Homo sapiens: one gene and its partner. The protein of the gene in region 2 purifies or fractionates together with the protein of the main gene of each other region. This does not show direct contact. Each region holds a gene or a part of one and is shown on either strand. Other genes may lie near its edges. The genes, in order: TCF15 and RUNX2.

What was found.
Region 1: the proteins of RUNX2 (region 2) and TCF15 purify together in Homo sapiens (affinity purification with mass spectrometry; one large-scale study listed by BioGRID and IntAct). This does not show direct contact.

What each region holds. Positions count from the first base shown.
Region 1 is NC_000020.11:607,388-611,698, forward strand, and holds the start of TCF15 (transcription factor 15), read right to left. Parts: upstream 2,923-4,311; 5' UTR 2,851-2,922; coding exon 2,326-2,850; intron 1-2,325. UniProt on the Homo sapiens protein: Early transcription factor that plays a key role in somitogenesis, paraxial mesoderm development and regulation of stem cell pluripotency. Essential for the mesenchymal to epithelial transition associated with somite formation.
Region 2 is NC_000006.12:45,334,584-45,338,403, reverse strand, and holds part of RUNX2 (runt-related transcription factor 2), read right to left. Parts: intron 1-3,820. UniProt on the Homo sapiens protein: Transcription factor involved in osteoblastic differentiation and skeletal morphogenesis. Essential for the maturation of osteoblasts and both intramembranous and endochondral ossification.

The DNA of each region.
Region 1 (4,311 bases), on a different chromosome or scaffold from region 2:
GAGGTGGTGGCTCAGGGTAAAGGAACGGGGTCTTGGGTCTTAAAGCTCTTCTGGCCCACAAAGCTCAGAAGGGAGCAAGAGCTCCCCAAGCCAGCCAGTTTTCTTCCAGCAGAGTCTTCAAGGGGCCATAGCTGGCCAGGATTGCCCCTCTCGCCTATTCCCAGAGGAGACCGTGGGGTTGAGAGCATGGTTTCTACAGCCAAATTTGGCTGAGTTCTTGGTCCCATAGACAGATCCCAGGGAAGCGGCCAGGCCCAGGGGAGGCCCCTGTGAGCTGTGGGACAGGCCTGAGACCTGCAGAGAAGTCCCCCAGCCTGCTTGCTATGGGGGTGGACACATGACAGTTACAGGGACTTCCCTCTGTAACCTATCCCACGTCCCAACCAGGCAGGCCTGAGTTTGAATCCTGGTTCCATCACTGACTGTGTGTCTCTGCGCCACTGGCAGCACCTCTAAGCAAGTGGGGATAACCACAGCGCCTCATTCCTGGCTGTTGCAGGATTTTAATGATAAATCATAAAGAGCGCTTAGCACAGATCAGTGCTCATGAAGGCTGCTGTCACTGCTGTTATTGGCCATTGTGCTCCCCCTCTGCACTCCTGCCACTTTTAACCTCTTCCCTCTTCCTTCTCTAGGCCTGAGCTCTTGCTGTATGCCCCAATCCTAGAACACCCTTTCCTACCCCTTCATCGGCCTGCCCCTGTTCTAAAGCATCCTTCAGAAATGAGACACAGAAACCCTGTCAGCACTCACCCTGGGTTGGAGGCTTTCTCTGGGCTCTGAGAATCCCTTTGTGCTTCCCCTCCCCCACCATCAGACCACAGCATCCTCATCTTCATCTCCCTGCCCTGACCCTGGGGCTGTACTGTCAGGTCCTGACTGGTGGAAGGGTGGGGACCTACAACCTGCTTCTCTGGGGTTCTCAGAGCCAACAGAAGGCAGCTGTTGGGTAGCTAAGGGTTGCTAACTGGAATGAATGGGTGAAAGGCAGTCAGGGAGTATCCCTGAGAGCCCCTTCAGGCCCTCCCATCCCAGGAAGCCTTAAAGGCCCACTCCTGGCTTCTCAGCCCAGCCTGGGGCACTGACAGGGGCCCACAGCTGGGAGCAGCAGGGACCCTGGAGAGGGCACAAGCCTGAGGCTAAGAAGACCGACGATTCAGGGCAACTGAGGCAGCCAAGTGTTGAGCAACCAGGCTGGATATCTGATGAGCCAGACAGAGGGTGGTCTCAGGCCAAGATGCAGAGGCCTCCGCAGAACAGGGTGGAGCAAGGGACCAACGGCAGCTGTGAGAACCAAACAGCAGGGAGTCAGGGGCCTAACTCCAATTCCCCATGCCCTTCCACTTGGCCACCAAAAGTCAGTACTCTCTCAGCCTCAGTTTCCCCGGATGTAAATGGTAGCTGCTGGAATACAAGTTGTTAGACAGGCTTCTTTACTGTAGGAAAAGCCCAGGCCAGAAAGGCACACGGTCGGGGGATGAAGCAGGTTCCTTGGAGCCTGGGCAAGGTTTCAGCCAAGAGGCCACCTCTGCTGCCACACAGCCCCCGCCCACCCCTACCAGCCTGATCCACTTTCTTGCCCAGGACACATTGCAGGAGCTGCACACCAGCTCCCTCCAGCTGACCCAAGAGTGCCCTCTCCCAACACCACGTCCTTTTGGGGGCTGGGGACTCTCAGAGGGCCCCTTCTTCACTCCTACTGCTCATCCGCTGGGTACCTCAGGCTCTCGGTTGGCGGTTTGTGGCCTCCTTTCTTCTCAGTCTCCTGCTCTTGGGTTAGATCTTAGGACAGGGGACAATTATTTCAAGGTGGGGGCAACACACACCGGGCAAGCCCAGGGCCAGCGCCCCGGCTTCCCAGCTGAGTAAATGTGGGCAGGTGATCCCATCTCTGATGCTCAGATCCTCATCAGGATAAAATGGGCAGAAAAACTACCTGCCTGAAGGGATTCTTGTGAAGGCAAAAAAGTGGATGTGGAGCGCATCGGCACAGAGGAAGACTCCATAAAAGATGGGTCTTTGTTACTCAGTCCTCATGCCGTCTTCCCAGCAGGAAGGAAGTTCCAGCACACCTTTCGTTGGAGGGGATATCCCACACTGAGCAGTTAAATCAGACCCGAACTCTGGGTTTTCCCGCATCCTTCTGTTTGGGGGCCTGGGCATTAAGTCAGTGGTTCTGGGCTTGGGGTGCCGCACCCAGCACGAATTCCACGTCGCTTCCCCCTGGCCTCGTTGGGGACCCCTGCACCTCTCCGGTTCCCGCAGAGGCGCTGCCCCCCGCCTACCCCGACCTGGCGGCCGCAGCGAGGGACGCAGCACACTCACCCCCTTGCGCTGGTTGCTGAGGCAGAAGGTGCAGATGGAGCGCGGCTGGCGGCCGCCGTCGGCGGCGGCGGGGACGGCGCCCTTGGCACTGCCCGCGGCACGGAAGCACGGCTGCCCGTCGTCGGCCGAGTCGCCCAGCAGCAGCACGTTGGCCAGGTGCGCGATGTAGCTGGACGCCAGGCGCACGGTCTCGATCTTGGACAGCTTGCGGTCCACCGGCTCGGTGGGGATGAGCGTGCGCAGCGCCGTGAAGGCCGTGTTCACGCTCTGAGTGCGGTCCCGCTCCCGCGCGTTGGCCGCCTGCCGCTGTCGCACCACCACCACGGGGCCCGCGCCGCCGCCGCCGCCCGCCCGCCGCCCGCCCCCGGGGCCCGGGCCGCGCCGCGCCGCCTCCGGGCCCTCGCAGCAGCCGAACGACTGGTCCGACGCGTCGCTCTCGCTGCGGTTCTCCTCGTCCTCGCTCAGCAGCCGCACGTCCGGGTACAGCACGTGCGCGCCGACGGGCCGCAGCAGCGCGAACGCCATGGGCGCCGGCCGCGTCCCTCCGTGCGCCGCGTCCCAGCGTCGGCCGCGCCCCGCCGTGCGCTCCCGCGCGCTCCCACGGCCCCGCCGGCCCCCGCCTTATAGGCGAGGGAGGGGCCAATGGCAAGGCCGCCCCGGCCGGGGGCGGAGGGCTCCGCCCGGCCAATGGGGAGGCGTCCGCCCGGCCAATGGGGAGGCGTCCGCCGCGCCCTGGCCAATGGCGACGCTCCCACCGCCTCCGTCCCCCAGGTTGAAAGCGGCCCGGGAGCCGGCGGCCCACCCCGAAGGCCCCCGTTCCCGGCTGGCTAGCCCGGCAGATGCTGGAGGTCTGGGAGGGTCGGCCGGGGTGGGCCCAGATCCGAACTTTTTGTCTCCAGCCTGGACCACCTGGGAGACGCGGGCAGATCCCTTTCTCCTCTCTGGGCCTCAGTTTCCTCGTTCGGAACGTTCAGATTGCAGAGAAACAGCTAGTGTCTGCCTGCCCTCCAATTCTAATCCTGTAGTTCTGCAGCTTTCACGTGCGTAAGAACTGGGGAAGGGGCTTTTGCTATTACAGAGTCCCAAATTGCTCCCATTCTGATTGAGCAGTTCTGGAACGGGCCCAGGAACCTACATTTTGTAACAAGCCATTGGTGATAGTGGTGGTGTCCGTGGAGAACACTTGGAGAAAAGCTATAATCTTTCCAAATGAGGATTCGACAGTGTCTTGTCCCTGAAGACAAACTTAAAAAGAAGAAGAAAAAAAAAAGCAAAACAAAACCACAATACACAAACACCAGTAGTTCGTTCGTTTTTTCAACAAATATTCGTTGGGTCCCTACTATGTGTCAGACATGGTTTTAGGTCTGAGGATACAGCCATTAACAAAATAAATTCTTCACCCTCACGGAACTGACGTTTTGGTTAAGGAACTACTGTGTACCAGACTCGGTGCTATATACTCTATTGCGCCCAGCTGAGGCTGCAGGATGGCAGCCCTGAGTTACAGGTCAGAGAGCTCCGGCCTTCAGTCGTACAGGTGGGAGTGGCGGCGCTAGCTCCAGCCTGTCCGGTTTCACTACCTCTTGGAATCCTACCACCACCATCCCATCACACACACACGGGCTATCTTTCCTCAATGCCTGCTTGCCTTCTAGAAACCTTAGATTGTTCAGCCTGACGTGTCCTCTTCAGAGAATTGCTGAGCCAAAGGTGGTTGCCGGGGTCTCGATCTCACTCGTGCCTGCTGCTCAGCTCTCTCCAGGCACTAGCTAAACCAGCATCCACTTGGCCTTGAAAATAAGCCCGAGTGGCAGCCGGTGTAGCAGACAGAGCGCAGGGAGTGGAGTTGAAAGGCTTCTAGGTGCATTTTGGCTCCTCTGGGCGTCTGTTTTCCTGACGATGCCTGCAGCTCTGCCATGCTGTGCTTTCCTGGCTTCCCTGATCCAGGCCAGAATTAGGGGAAGAAGAGGGAGCGAGGGATTT
Region 2 (3,820 bases):
TGTATTTTTATTACTGATTTTAGAATTTCTTGAGAAGTTGCCTATAATTTTTTTTTTTTATGAGAGCTACATCTGGAAATGCTCAAAAGTTGTTTGCCTTTTTTGAGAGAACAATCTGCAGTGAAAGTATAACTTCTTTAGAGGTGATGTTTAAGTTAGCAAATGCTGAACCATAATGTGAGGAAGCATAATATTGTGAATTATTTGGCAAACATACCTAATACAGGCATTAGCTGTTGAAACCATTTGTAAAGTACAACTTACAGAAAGCTAGAAAGATAGGCTACACAGAACTTTATCTGTAAACTCTGAGGATGAAAACTAGAGTACAACTTAAGTTTATTCAATAAAGACTAAATTCTGTAAGTTTAAGTTTGATTTGTTTATAGGTTCCATGATTAATGTGTAATTAGAGTATGAAAGAAGCATTTAGAATCCTTTAAAATTTATAGGTGATAACATCATTGTCAAGTCAGGAGTTTTGTTTCTTAAAGTTAGAATTTACTTAAATATACTTTTTCTCTAAAAAAATAAAATCTTATTTCTACTTACAGTAGTACCAAAGTGAGTTTTCGCAAAAAGAATTATTTAATATGTATTTAATATTTGTTTCAAATAAACAAAAATAAACATAACAACCAACAGTGGAGGGGCGTCTTAGATTTGTTTTTAGCTTTCTTTTTCATGGCTTCTAGAAGTGTATCATATTATAAATACATTCAAAATGTTTTGCTCTGAGGATATGTAGCATTCCTATAAAGGTTAAATCAATAAAAATGATTTGGACACATTCCTAAGCATGGCTAGAACAGGTAGTCCGTTGTTTTAGGTACCCTTGAGTTTCTGGAGCAGATCATTATGGCGTAGCAAAAGAACTTACTAAAAGTTGCTTTCTATGTGTAGATGCATCAGCTTAAAAAAATAAGATTTTCTGGCCTTCTAGAAATGAGTATTTTTAGAGTAACCCTTGTATATATTGATTTAATTATATATTTTAAATGCAGTTAAAGTTTTGGAGCTTTTTTTTCTTCGAATGCTGGAGATACACCATAATTGATAAGGAAGAGGTACGTACAGGAAAAATGCAATGGCAAGCTTTTCCAGCAAATTTAGAATAAATGACAGTCTTATGGTTAAAGAAAGTATCACACATTATAATTGCAAAATAGGGATTGGATGTGATTCTTTTTAGTCTTGCCAGTTTAGAAAAAAATTCTGTAAGTCATTGGCATGTTGTTCTGTTCATATGGGCAGTTCAAAAGGCAAGCTTTAATTTGAGCTTTTATTTTAGAAAGCATATGTATATCTCCTATGTTCGGGGTTGGCTTCTCACTATATTATTGTTGCTATGTAGTTTTATGCATTTGCTTGCATTTTTTGTGTTCATGTCATAAGTTTTAAGTATGTAAGTTTTCAGATCACACTGTTTTCACAGCAAGTTTCAAAAAATATTTTTATGCCAGTTTATAATAATGAGTAAGGCCATTTTTATTAAAGTTTCCTTTAAAACAGCATTTAAGATGTTTCTGGATCAAAAAAATTAAGTGAATTGACCATGTATTTGAATGAAGAAAGTTTAAAACAGAGGTAGAAAATTTGAGTTACATGTATTATTAATGAAGTTATATTATAGAAAATCACTTCCTATCTTTTTGTACATCTAATATGTATTTACTTTGTAAGTAAATACTTTATTAAAAATACTGTGTTACAGTATTTCTTGGAGCACAGGATTTAATTTTATAGTCAAGAAAATTGTTTGAATACGTCTGAGTAAAAATTTATTGTACATATATAGAGTGGTTTAACCATTTAATAATTAAATAATTTAGCAATTTAAGCCAAGTATTTTGATGTTTTAAAAAATATTTAAGTGTATCTTGATAGATTCTGATTTTAGTGTGTCTTGTGTCTTGATAGGACCAGAATATTTATGAAAATAAAAATAAGCCTAATAATCAGCACATGGCTCTAAATTTTCTTCCTGGGTACTTGTGAGTGATAATGTTAAAAACAGATCACTTTATGTGTTTTCTCTAGTCCTATTGGTGTACAAAAATATTCTGCAATATGCTTATGCGTGTTATAAGGGAGGGATATTGTTAAATCTTTACTACATAATCAAGAATAAAGCTTTCGTGACAGTACTCATTGTCCTTATCTAGCTAACACTTTTAAAATGAAGTGGTTACTAGTGGTAAAAAGTTTTTAAAATGTTAAGTTTTCCTTCTAAATTACAGAGAGAGAAATAATGTATATGTGTTTGGTTTTGAAAACTGGGAGAATAGAAGAATTCTGGGTGGACACTGGAGTTTATAATATGTGAAAAGGAGTTTCTTCTGTGGAAAGGAGGTTGGATTAATGATCAAAAGTTGGAGTACATTGACTTGTATATTTCCATTTCTTTAGAAATACACTGTAGCACATTGTCTTTGTAAGTAGTATCTCCATAGGCATTATCTTCTTAAATATTTCATTTTTGCATTGACTCTTATAAGAGCAGTAGCAAGTTTTTCTGCATTTTGTCAAAAGCTGAATTACCGAAATGCTTTACAGATTTCATGAGAGGTAAAAAAATTAATCTTATTAGATTATCTTTTGTAACCATTTATCCTGCCTAATGTTAAGATGCTGTTGTCTTGATGGGAGTTTTCTCATAGATTACTTCATGGTGTCTTAATATTTTTGAATTGGGTGTTAGGTTCTTAGTATGAAATGCTTATGTACTTTCACAGGTATCAGCTTTATGGAAAACACAGTGATTGATATAATGTGGATTGTTAGCATAAAGAAGTTTCCTTTCTGTGATCCTGTACAGTTGTTACAGATATCTGTAATCTGACAGTTTATGAAATAAAATGAGAATTTACTTTTATCTAAAAAAATGTATTTTAATGAGCTGTGTTTGCATTAAAGTATCTTATAATAAAATTGTAATTGATTGAAGAGAATCCATACTGTGTACCTTTTTGATACACATGGATTTTCTAGGATCGTTATAGTGATACAGCAGTAGGTTGACATGTTGTAAAATGTAATACCATATTACATAGTAAAATAAATGTCATGATCCTTTCTTTTAAGCTTCAAAGTAAATTCACATTGTTTAGATACATTTAAATAATTTGTAATCATTTAGTAAAATTATATCTTTTCACTTAAAATTATATTGGGAATTTGAAGTCTTAAACTGGGAAGTTCAGTACAGAAATTTAAAAAGAAAGTTAATTCTAGCAATTATCATAGAAAAATTAGAAATTCAATGCTTAAATTGTTTACCCAGGTTACATGGTCAATGAGAAAATATACCTGTTTAGCTTCAAGCCAGAGTTGTTCTTTGAGATAATATTTATAAATAGGAATCTATTAGCAAATTAATTCCATTCATATTTGCCCTTATAAACTCTAATACTTTGTTTAACTGATATCAGTTTTTAATTATTGTTACTTAAGTTTATAACTGGAAAATAACATCTTTGGATTTTATAAGATTGATTATTTTAGTCTTGAAATTCCTAGTAGATGCCTAATCCCTGTTACTGGTTTTATAGATTGACATTTGTTAACTTACATGCAAAAAAATTTTGATTATATTTCATGACAGAACTATAGTACCTCAGTTACATAATTTACAATTTTTTTCCTGGTTTATAATCATTATTACAAGTTCTGTAGTCATTGGTGTGAATGCATTCACACTCATGCATGTGTATATGCCATGTATAAAAATGTTAAGACAAACATAGCCAGAAGAAATTTAAGTTGAACATATATGACACGTATTTTGTTTCGGTGTAAAAATACATCGTGTTCATGTGAA